Regions from separate parts of the Homo sapiens genome. Here region 1 is reported to be linked to region 2. The links are microRNA targets in miRTarBase. Many come from high-throughput screens and were not tested one by one. Region 2 holds a microRNA gene; the other region holds the end of a gene's coding sequence. Distances are between the middles of the regions.

What was found. Region 2 holds the annotated microRNA hsa-miR-6807-5p (GUGAGCCAGUGGAAUGGAGAGG, at 4,183-4,204, shown strand). A microRNA usually pairs through its seed, bases 2 to 8, with sites in the 3' UTR of a target mRNA and lowers its output. Matches are read on the target gene's strand: a 7mer-m8 pairs with bases 2 to 8, a 7mer-A1 pairs with bases 2 to 7 and ends in A, and an 8mer does both.
Region 1: the mRNA of ZNF431 is a reported target of hsa-miR-6807-5p. Seed matches in the 3' UTR shown: 7mer-m8 at 2,555-2,561, 7mer-m8 at 4,012-4,018 and 7mer-m8 at 4,532-4,538.

Annotation. Positions count from the first base shown.
Region 1 is chr19:21,183,458-21,188,672 of GRCh38, forward strand. ZNF431 (zinc finger protein 431) reads left to right here. Exons shown (of 5, transcript NM_133473.4): 5 at 1-5,215. The coding sequence ends at 577. It also overlaps the pseudogene VN1R82P. Among named protein-coding and RNA genes, the nearest start is that of ZNF431, 44 kb to the left of the region's middle.
Region 2 is chr19:58,546,103-58,551,594 of GRCh38, forward strand. It overlaps MIR6807 (microRNA 6807), which reads left to right and starts at 4,183; the gene lies at 4,183-4,274. It overlaps TRIM28 (tripartite motif containing 28), which reads left to right. Exons shown (of 17, transcript NM_005762.3): 4 at 1,274-1,409; 5 at 1,495-1,611; 6 at 1,690-1,804; 7 at 1,932-2,078; 8 at 2,192-2,306; 9 at 2,384-2,490; 10 at 2,638-2,674; 11 at 2,760-2,808; 12 at 2,886-3,138; 13 at 3,229-3,548; 14 at 3,635-3,758; 15 at 3,847-3,933; 16 at 4,045-4,182; 17 at 4,275-4,613. The coding sequence ends at 4,451. It overlaps CHMP2A (charged multivesicular body protein 2A), which reads right to left. Exons shown (of 6, transcript NM_014453.4): 6 at 5,464-5,492.

The DNA of each region.
Region 1 (5,215 bases), 37 Mb from region 2:
AACCCTTACTAAACATAAAAGAATTCATACTGGAGAGAAACCCTACAAATGTGAAGTGTGTGGCAAAGCCTTTAATGAGTCCTCAAACCTTACTACACATAAGATGATTCATACTGGAGAGAAACCCTACAAATGTGAAGAATGTGGCAAAGCTTTTAACCGGTCCCCACAACTTACTGCACATAAGATAATTCATACTGGAGAGAAACCTTACAAATGTGAAGAATGTGGCAAAGCTTTTAGCCAGTCATCAATCCTTACTACACATAAGAGAATTCACACTGGAGAGAAACCCTACAAATGTGAAGAATGTGGCAAAGCTTTTAACCGATCCTCAAATCTTACTAAACATAAGATAATTCATACAGGAGAGAAATCTTACAAATGTGAAGAATGTGGTAAAGCCTTTAACCAATCCTCAACTCTTACTAAACATAGGAAAATTCATACTAGACAGAAACCCTACAACTGTGAAGAATGTGACAATACATTTAACCAGTCCTCAAACCTTATTAAACAAAATAATTCATACTGGAGAGAAACTCTACAAATGTCAAGAATGTGGGAAAGCCTTTAAGCAGTCCTCAACTCTTACTAAGCATTAAATATTGGCCGGGTGCGGTGGCTTATGCAAAATGGCTCCCAGCATTTTGGGAGGCTGAGGTGGGTGGATCACAAGGTCAAGAGATCGAGACCATCCTGGCCAACATGGTGAAACCCTGTCTCTACTAAAAATACAAAAATTATCTGGGTGTGGTGGCACGTGCCTGTATTCCCATCTACTCGGGAGGCTTAGGCAGGATAATCACTTGAACCTGGGAGGTGGAAGTTGCAGTGAGCCAAGATTGTACCACTGCACTCCAGTTTGGCAACAGAGTGAGACTCCGTCTCAAAAAAAATTTATACTGTACAAAAACCCCACAAGTGTGAAAAACATGGCAAAGCCTTTAAGAAGCCCTCAATTCTTAACAGACATAAGATAATTTATACTGGAGAGAAACTCTACAAATCAGAAAGATGTGACTACTTTTGACAACGCCTCAAACTTTTCTAACCATAAAAGTAATTATACTGGTGAGAAATCCTAGAAATCTGAAGAGTGAGATAAAGCCTTTAAATGGTTGTCACACTTCATTGTAGGTAAGATAATTCATACTGGAGAAAACGCCTACATGTGTGAACAATATGGCAAAACTTAATGCTCACACTTTATTGCTAGGAAAGCATTTATACTTGAGATAAATTATACAAATATAAAGACTGTGAAAAAGCCATCATTATCTGCTCACATTTTACTCAACACAGAGAGTTCCTGCTTAATAAAAGCATTATAAGTGCAATTACTGTCAAAAGATCTTTCAGAAAATATAAGCTTTTTTAGTGAAGAGTATTTATTTTGAAGTTGAACATCACAAATATAAAAAGGGTTGTAGTGCCTTTACTTGTATCACAGATCTTTTTGTAGACATTTTCTTCTAGAGGAAAACTCTGAAGCAGTTGATCAAACTTTGTTCAACATCAGGGAATTTATATTGAAAAATTGTGCAAATATAATAAATTTGGAAAAACAATTTTTCAAAAACTACAGCTTAGAAATCAACAGTTATACTAGAATATATTTTTTCCAGATGCAGTAAAAGTAAAATATTTAATCCATAATTAAGTCTATGCAAATATCAGAGAATTTATGGTAGAAATATATAAGGTACTGACACTTCAGATATACTAAATCAGAGTGCTAAGTATAGAAAATCTGAAACTAAAGTTGGTAGAAAAGTTATTTGTATAGAACTTTAAGAGGATCAGAAGGTTTTTTGCAGAGTTATAATTACATTCAAAGTATACTTTATTTCTTGAAAAATATTACAGATTTTTTGAAAATTGAATAATGTCATCATTCAACTCTGAAATTATTTCCTGTTGTTTCTTCATTCCTATTGGATTCACATGTGAAAGCATGGGGTTAATTGTTGCTACATCAAAGAGAGAGATTCTTTTGTTTGTTTGTTCGTTTGTTTTTTGAGACTGAGTTTCACTCTTTCGCCCAGGCTGGAGTGCATTGGCATGATCTCAGCTCACTACAACCTCTGCCTTCTGGTTTCAAGCAACTCTTCTGCCTCAGCATCCCAAGTAGCTGGGATAACAGGTGCCAGCCACCATGCCCAGCTAATTTGTGTATTTCTAGTAGAGATGGGGTTTCACCATATTGGCCAAGCTGGTCTTGAACTCCTGACCTCATGTGATCCGCCCGCCTCAGCCTCCCAAAGTGCTGGGATTACAGGCTTGAGCCACCACGCCCAGCCTGTAGCATATTTTAATAGGAGAATACAATATATAATAGTAGCAGGGTTAAGTAAGGCATCCATCATCTGTAGCATTTCTCCTTTGTTTTACAAACAATCCAATTCTACACTTTAAAAAAAAATTTTTAAATGTACAATTAAATTTTTATTTACCACAGTGTTATTTTTATCGTCATAATAAAAATTATATACGAGTATAAATGAAATTCATTTCTAAATTCTTAATAAATATTTTCTCATGCCAGGTGTGGTGGCTCACGTCTGTAATCCCAGCACTTTGACAGGCTGAGCGAGGGAGTGGATCTTGAGGTCAGCAGTTCGAGACCAGCATGGCCAATATGGAGAAATCCCGTCTCTACTAAAAATACAAAAATTAGCCAGGCGTGGTGGCATGTGCCTGTAATCCCAGCTACTCAGGAGGCTGAGGCAGGAGAATCGCTTGAACCTGGGAGGTGGAGGTTGCAATGAGCCAAGATCACCCCACTGCACTCCAGCCTGGGCAACAGAGCGAGACTCCATCTCAAAAAGTAAAATATATTTTCAAATTTTCTATATATTTTTCTTTGAACATGTGGCCTGTCTGCCTGCAAACATATACAGACTTTTAGTTTTGATTCATATAGAGTTAAATACATGTTAGTCTAAAGACAAATCTTAGGTGTAAGAAAATTATGGAGTTAAGTATGTGTGTGTGAGTATGAGTTTGTACATATTTTCAGAAGGAAAGAATGATACGGGAACAAAAATCATTTTAATATGGTGACTACTATAAAACTAAAAACCTAAAAAATGCTGAAAGCAAATGTATACTTTTTGGTTTGTATTGAATTTATTACTGTACAGTCTATGACTTAGAGTTCTGAATCTTCCCAAGCAAATTCTCTGTATATACTTGCCTGGTACTCATGCTAGACCCATACTTTTTTTGTTTCTTACATTTTTTTTGTTTTATATTTTATGAAGTATTCATTATGTGAGCTGGTCTGCGATTATAAGAATTTTTATGAAATTTAGTGCACACAAAATAATCTTTAGATGTAATTCCAAAAGTAGTGTATTAAGTTACATTTTATTTAGTTAGAGCACTCCATTTTGTTCTTTTAAGAGGAGAACAATATATAGGTTTTCTTTAGTGATTTGTTCCTTTCACTTTTTATAATTGACATAAGCATATTTATTGAGTCAATTTGTTCAGCTAAGTACTAGGGAGGCTTCATTAGTCATGAGGATGTTTTTATATATAAATGTAGCAAACATATATTACAGTTTTCACTGTGTAATAGATTATCCATAATAATTCATAAATATTCCTGCTGAAGTTAGTTTGTAACTTCAAGTCAAAGATGAAAAATATCAATGGTGAAGATTGATTGTTCATATAGAGAGGACATTTTTTTTCCAGACTGTAAAACTGAATCTTGTTGAATTTAAAGAGAAATTCTGGCAGAGGCAGATGAATCACCTGAGGTCAGGAGTTTGAGACCAGCCTGATGAATATGGTGAAACCCAGTCTCTACTAAAACTACAAAAATAGCCAGGCATGGTGGTGGGTGCCTGTAATCCCACTCGGGAGGCTGAGTCAGGAGAATTGCTTGAACCCGGAGGTGAAGATTGGAGTAAGCCAAGATTGTGCCGTTGCACTACAGCCTGGGCGACAGAGCGAGACTCCATATAAAAAAAAAAAAAAAAAAAAAAGAGCTGGGCGTGGTGGCTCACGCCTGTAATCCCAGCACTTTGGGAGGCCAAGGTGGGCGAATCACTTGAGGTCGGGAGTTTGAGACCAGGTGACCAACATGGAGAAACTCCATCTCTACTAAAAAATACAAAATTAGCCCGGTGTGGTGGCGCATGCCTGTAATCCCAGCTACTCGGGAGACTGAGGCAGGAGAATCGCTTGAACACGACAGGTGGAGGTTGCAGTGTGGCGAGATTGCACCATTGCACTCCAGTCTGGGCGACAAGAGGGAAACTCCATCTGAAAAAAAAGAGAAATTCTTTTATTTTCTACTTCTCTTCAGATTTGTCTTATGCATTTTCCAACTATGTATGCATCACAGCTATTCTTTTTCTGAGTTATAGCTACAGTTTTCTTACTGTTGTCTTCATGCCATTTCATTTCACATGGTACTTTGTAGATTTTGATGAGGAAGTTGGTATTTTTAGTGCACACAAAAATTGGTTTTAACTGTAGAGTTTGCTTATCAGAACAGTTAAAAGGCAGCCAGGTGTGGCTCACGCCTGTAATCCCAGCACTGAGATAGGCCAAGGAGGGTGGATCACTTGAGGTCAGGAGTTTGAGACCAGCCTGACCAACATGGTGAAACCCTGTGTCTACTAAAAATACAAATTTAGCCACGCGTGGTGACGCACGCCTGTAATCCCAGCTACTCGGAAGGCCGAGGGAGCAGAATCGCTTGAACCTGGGAGGTAGAGGTTGCGGTGAGCCGAGACTGGGCCACTGCACTTCAGCCTGGGCAACAAGAGCGAAATTCTGTCTAAAAAAAAAAAAAAAAGATAAAAGGTGCAATACTGTCCACAGGTAAGATAATTAAATTAGTCAGCTTTGTTTTTAAAAGAAAAATCTTACTAGATTCTTATACAAAGTGTGGCAAATATAAAACTTGCTTGAAAATACAGAAATTAAATTTTTAAGAGAGTTAATGGTAAGTAAACAATTTTAAAGTTAATTTTCTATGATATACTTACAGCACAACTTATATTTCCATGCAGAATCTTTTATTTTTAAGTGTGAGTGTTAAAGGTTACAAAATAATGAAATGACTTCAGTGGATTTAAAATTTTGAAAAATAATGTCTTTTCTATATTGATTTTACAATTTGGAGAAATTTTTCACTCATTTTTTATATATTTTTTAGTGGGAGAGGTTTAGTCTACAGTTTTTATTTTTAGTC
Region 2 (5,492 bases):
GAAATAAGGGAGACCTTAATGTGCTGCAGGGAGGTACAAAGGGTTTGAGAAGGCTTATCAGGGAGTTGTCAGACCTGGTGGTGAAGGGCTCAGCATATGCAAACAGGGAAAGGCATGGTGTGAAGGGCTTTCTGGGTTTGTGGTTCCCTGGCACACATCTGGTATAAGATGCTGCTAGGGAAAGTAGACTGTGGGTCCATGGATTATAAGTGATGATGATTTTTGGAAGTGTTTTAGCTTTTGAGTTGGCAGAGACTTACCCAAAGTTTGGTTTGGCATTTCCAGCTTTTCACAGACACAGCTAGCTTTGGTTTGGAAGGAGCTTGAGAGTCTTTTGAGTCTAGCCAAGTTTTGGGGCCAGAATCCTCCCATGAGTGGCCTTTTGGTAGCCATACTGTGATTCTTCCCATCCCAGAGGACAGCATTGGTGGAAGATAGCGGGAAGGTGGTGGCTGTGGGGCCTGAGCAGCCAGGAGGGATACGCAGGGGCTGCAGGGTGTCCTACATTCCAGACGTCCCAGGCAAAGGTCAGGGTGCAGGAATGAGTGGCATTGGGGAAGTCAGTTTCCCCAATGAGCCCTGATGCTACATATTTTGGATTTGGTTGGTATGTGGGACCAGTGTGTTTGATCAGTTTTCTAATGGGGAGACAGGCTTTGGAGGTTATTAATGGGTTGGTCTTTGGGTGGGATTATGCTGAGCACCAAGATTCTGCTCTAGAGGGGGTGTGACCACCATTCTGAGGGTCCTGGTTTGACATTTCATCTCTCCCAGTATGAGAACCTCTACAAGGTTTCCTCTGGGCCCTTGGATTGTAAGAGACCCTGGTGTTCTCTTGTCAGGGAAGAGGGAGGAAGTTAACCATGAAAGGAGAAGAAAAGGAATCCAGGGTGGTGTGTAGGCAGAATTCTGAGTATGTCCACTTGGAGAAGTGTTCAGTAAAGGGAACAGTGTGGGGAAGGGTCAGCGGGGGTGGGGGGTGGGGTGGGGTGGTCCTCTTTTTCTAGACGCTGTTATCCTTACCCTTACATTGTTGTTATCTCTAGAAGCTAGAAGAAAGGGATGTGTTTCTCAGCTATGTTGGGGCAGAGGATTCTGGGAGCAAGGAGTTGGGCTTGCAGGCCTGTGTTCTTCCCTGGCCACACCCTCTACATCTTCCCAATAAATGGCCCAGTGTCACAGAACAGGCCGGAAATGAGGCCCCAACTCATTCTGCTTCCTGAGTTGGGGGTGGTGAAGGGCAAGGTCCAGCCTTATGATTCCCACTCCCCAGGGCCAGCCAAGTCTCGGGATGGTGAACGTACTGTCTATTGCAACGTACACAAGCATGAACCCCTTGTGCTGTTTTGTGAGAGCTGTGATACTCTCACCTGCCGAGACTGCCAGCTCAATGCCCACAAGGACCACCAGTGAGTCCCAAGGCATAGTGGTTGGGTGGGTGGGTGCCACCCCTTCCGTAGCTTAGTGCTCAGGAACACATCTGTCTGCTCTCAGGTACCAGTTCTTAGAGGATGCAGTGAGGAACCAGCGCAAGCTCCTGGCCTCACTGGTGAAGCGCCTTGGGGACAAACATGCAACATTGCAGAAGAGCACCAAGGAGGTTCGCAGCTCGTAAGTGTGGGTTCTGGGGCTGTGGGGGTGGCCCAGGGCAGCAAGACCCTACCTAGCCTGACCTGCTGTGTCCCCTAGAATCCGCCAGGTGTCTGACGTACAGAAGCGTGTGCAAGTGGATGTCAAGATGGCCATCCTGCAGATCATGAAGGAGCTGAATAAGCGGGGCCGTGTGCTGGTCAATGATGCCCAGGTAAGCCTTGTGCCGGTGAGAAGGGTCCCTGAGCCCCCTCTGCTGATTGATGATGCTGTCTGGGGTGAGGAGTGATCCTAGTATTCTTCTGCCTTCTCTGCTTACCTCATACACCTTCTATCTGCAGAAGGTGACTGAGGGGCAGCAGGAGCGCCTGGAGCGGCAGCACTGGACCATGACCAAGATCCAGAAGCACCAGGAGCACATTCTGCGCTTTGCCTCTTGGGCTCTGGAGAGTGACAACAACACAGCCCTTTTGCTTTCTAAGAAGTTGGTGTGTACTGGTGGGCTCCTGGCTGGTGGGTTCCAGGCAGGTGGTTCCCAATACCTCAAATCCCTATTTGTTGTTGGTGTGCTCATTCTTTCCTCCCTTTCACTCCCAACCAGATCTACTTCCAGCTGCACCGGGCCCTCAAGATGATTGTGGATCCCGTGGAGCCACATGGCGAGATGAAGTTTCAGTGGGACCTCAATGCCTGGACCAAGAGTGCCGAGGCCTTTGGTGGGTCCCCAGCTTTACCTCACTCTGTTATTACCCCACGTGCTGCACCTACTTACGTTTCTCTCTTCTTTTTGCAGGCAAGATTGTGGCAGAGCGTCCTGGCACTAACTCAACAGGCCCTGCACCCATGGCCCCTCCAAGAGCCCCAGGGCCCCTGAGCAAGCAGGGCTCTGGCAGCAGCCAGGTGAGCAGGAGAGAGGACCCAGGAAGGGGTGGGCAGGGAATGGGGTCCAGTAGCAGGAGAGAGGACCCAGGCAGGGGGGGTGGGCAGGGAATGGGGTCCAGTAGGGTTCCTGTCCCACTGAGGCAGAGGGTTCTGCTTTGTTCACAGCCCATGGAGGTGCAGGAAGGCTATGGCTTTGGGTCAGGTGAGTGGGTCTGCCTAGTGGGTGGGGAAGGGCCCCAGTGCTGTTTCTACCCCAACCTGCCAGTCTTCTTTCTCCATTTTCTAAGGAGATGATCCCTACTCAAGTGCAGAGCCCCATGTGTCAGGTGTGAAACGGTAAGTATGGCACCTCCCCTGGGGGTGAGGTGGATGGAGGGTGGGGGTGTACTCATGCCAGGTTGCTGCATCTACAGGTCCCGCTCAGGTGAGGGCGAGGTGAGCGGCCTTATGCGCAAGGTGCCACGAGTGAGCCTTGAACGCCTGGACCTGGACCTCACAGCTGACAGCCAGCCACCCGTCTTCAAGGTCTTCCCAGGCAGTACCACTGAGGACTACAACCTTATTGTTATTGAACGTGGCGCTGCCGCTGCAGCTACCGGCCAGCCAGGGACTGCGCCTGCAGGAACCCCTGGTGCCCCACCCCTGGCTGGCATGGCCATTGTCAAGGTAAGCCTGTCCCAAGGAACTATAGCTGTAGGATGAAGCCTGTAGTCCAGGTCTGGACCCTGTTGAACACCCCTCATCACCACCTTGCAGGAGGAGGAGACGGAGGCTGCCATTGGAGCCCCTCCTACTGCCACTGAGGGCCCTGAGACCAAACCTGTGCTTATGGCTCTTGCGGAGGGTCCTGGTGCTGAGGGTCCCCGCCTGGCCTCACCTAGTGGCAGCACCAGCTCAGGGCTGGAGGTGGTGGCTCCTGAGGGTACCTCAGCCCCAGGTGGTGGCCCGGGAACCCTGGATGACAGTGCCACCATTTGCCGTGTCTGCCAGAAGCCAGGCGATCTGGTTATGTGCAACCAGTGTGAGTTTTGTTTCCACCTGGACTGTCACCTGCCGGCCCTGCAGGATGTACCAGGGTGAGTGTGAGGCTGGTGGGGGTCAAGTCTGGGTGTTGGGCTGTCTGGACAGGATCATGTGCAGACCCTTATTTTCTTCACCCTAGGGAGGAGTGGAGCTGCTCACTCTGCCATGTGCTCCCTGACCTGAAGGAGGAGGATGGCAGCCTCAGCCTGGATGGTGCAGACAGCACTGGCGTGGTGGCCAAGCTCTCACCAGCCAACCAGCGGGTGAGGGCTGGGGTTACTTAGGTGGGGTTGCCCAGAGAGGCTTTATAGGTGCTGCCCAGAGCTGTGACATCCCTTACAATGTTTGTAGAAATGTGAGCGTGTACTGCTGGCCCTATTCTGTCACGAACCCTGCCGCCCCCTGCATCAGCTGGCTACCGACTCCACCTTCTCCCTGGTGAGTCCTAGGATGGGAAAGGGGAAGGGGGTGGTGGCTGCTGGGTCTCGCCCTCAACCTGTGCATGTATATGTGTGTCTTTGTGTGTGTATGTGTGATCTCTGCCTGCAGGACCAGCCCGGTGGCACCCTGGATCTGACCCTGATCCGTGCCCGCCTCCAGGAGAAGTTGTCACCTCCCTACAGCTCCCCACAGGAGTTTGCCCAGGATGTGGGCCGCATGTTCAAGCAATTCAACAAGTTAACTGAGGTGAGCCAGTGGAATGGAGAGGCTGTGGGCAGGGGGAGATGTGAAGGAAAGAACTAGGACCCATTCATCCACTGCATTCCTGCTTGGCCCAGGACAAGGCAGACGTGCAGTCCATCATCGGCCTGCAGCGCTTCTTCGAGACGCGCATGAACGAGGCCTTCGGTGACACCAAGTTCTCTGCTGTGCTGGTGGAGCCCCCGCCGATGAGCCTGCCTGGTGCTGGCCTGAGTTCCCAGGAGCTGTCTGGTGGCCCTGGTGATGGCCCCTGAGGCTGGAGCCCCCATGGCCAGCCCAGCCTGGCTCTGTTCTCTGTCCTGTCACCCCATCCCCACTCCCCTGGTGGCCTGACTCCCACTCCCTGGTGGCCCCATCCCCCAGTTCCTCACGATATGGTTTTTACTTCTGTGGATTTAATAAAAACTTCACCAGTTCCTCAGGCGTTGGCTGGTTGGGGGACTGTGGTCCTGGGGCCTGGTTTATTGACTGTATCTACTAGTCAGCCTTATCAAGCACTGGTGGCACAAGGGAGGGGGGTCTTGTCCCCCACCTATCGAAGCCCATGTGTATGGATGCCTAGGGAGTGGGGAAGACTGCCTCCTTGCCCTTTCTGGGTATGGGGAGGGTCACCCAGGGCAAAGGATGTACACACTAGAGGCTTGTTGGGTACCCTGTGGGATACTGGGTAGGTGTGACCTACATCCCTGTGTAGGCAGGGTTAGCCCCAGGTGTAGCACAGCCACTCTACTGAATGCTTCCTAAATTTTGGTGCTGTAGCTGTTTCTCATCTTCAGAAGGTCCCACAGTGAACTGAGACCTTCCAGATGTGGTTTTTTTCCCTGTCTCCCTTTGCTGAGTCCACTTAACATTATCATTCATCTCTGTGTTATGATTTAGTTACTCTACAGTCGAGCCTGTGTGAATCCCAAGGCCACCCCCTTGCCTCTATTGGTTGGTCTGGACTGTCCTTGAGTGTTGTCATTAAACCATCACTGGACCAAACAGTGTTGGACACTACAGCCTGGCAGATGAGGCCTGGACTCTCAAGATCCTACCAGGGTGTTTGGGCAGTCCAGTATCTTGGGAGAGGTGATGGAGAAGGGCCCACAGCTCACCTGAAGCTCCCAGCTCCTGAAAATCCCAGGTGGACTTTGCTTGTTCACCCCTGCCCCAAACCCCCACCCTTAGCTTAGTACCAAGTGCCTCTTGCCTTAGTGATGCCCATCCTCCCAGGGACCCCAGTCTGGTCCCACATCAGGCCAAAAGTCACATGGGCCTGGAGACTAGTGTCAAATCTCTTTTATTACAGAGGG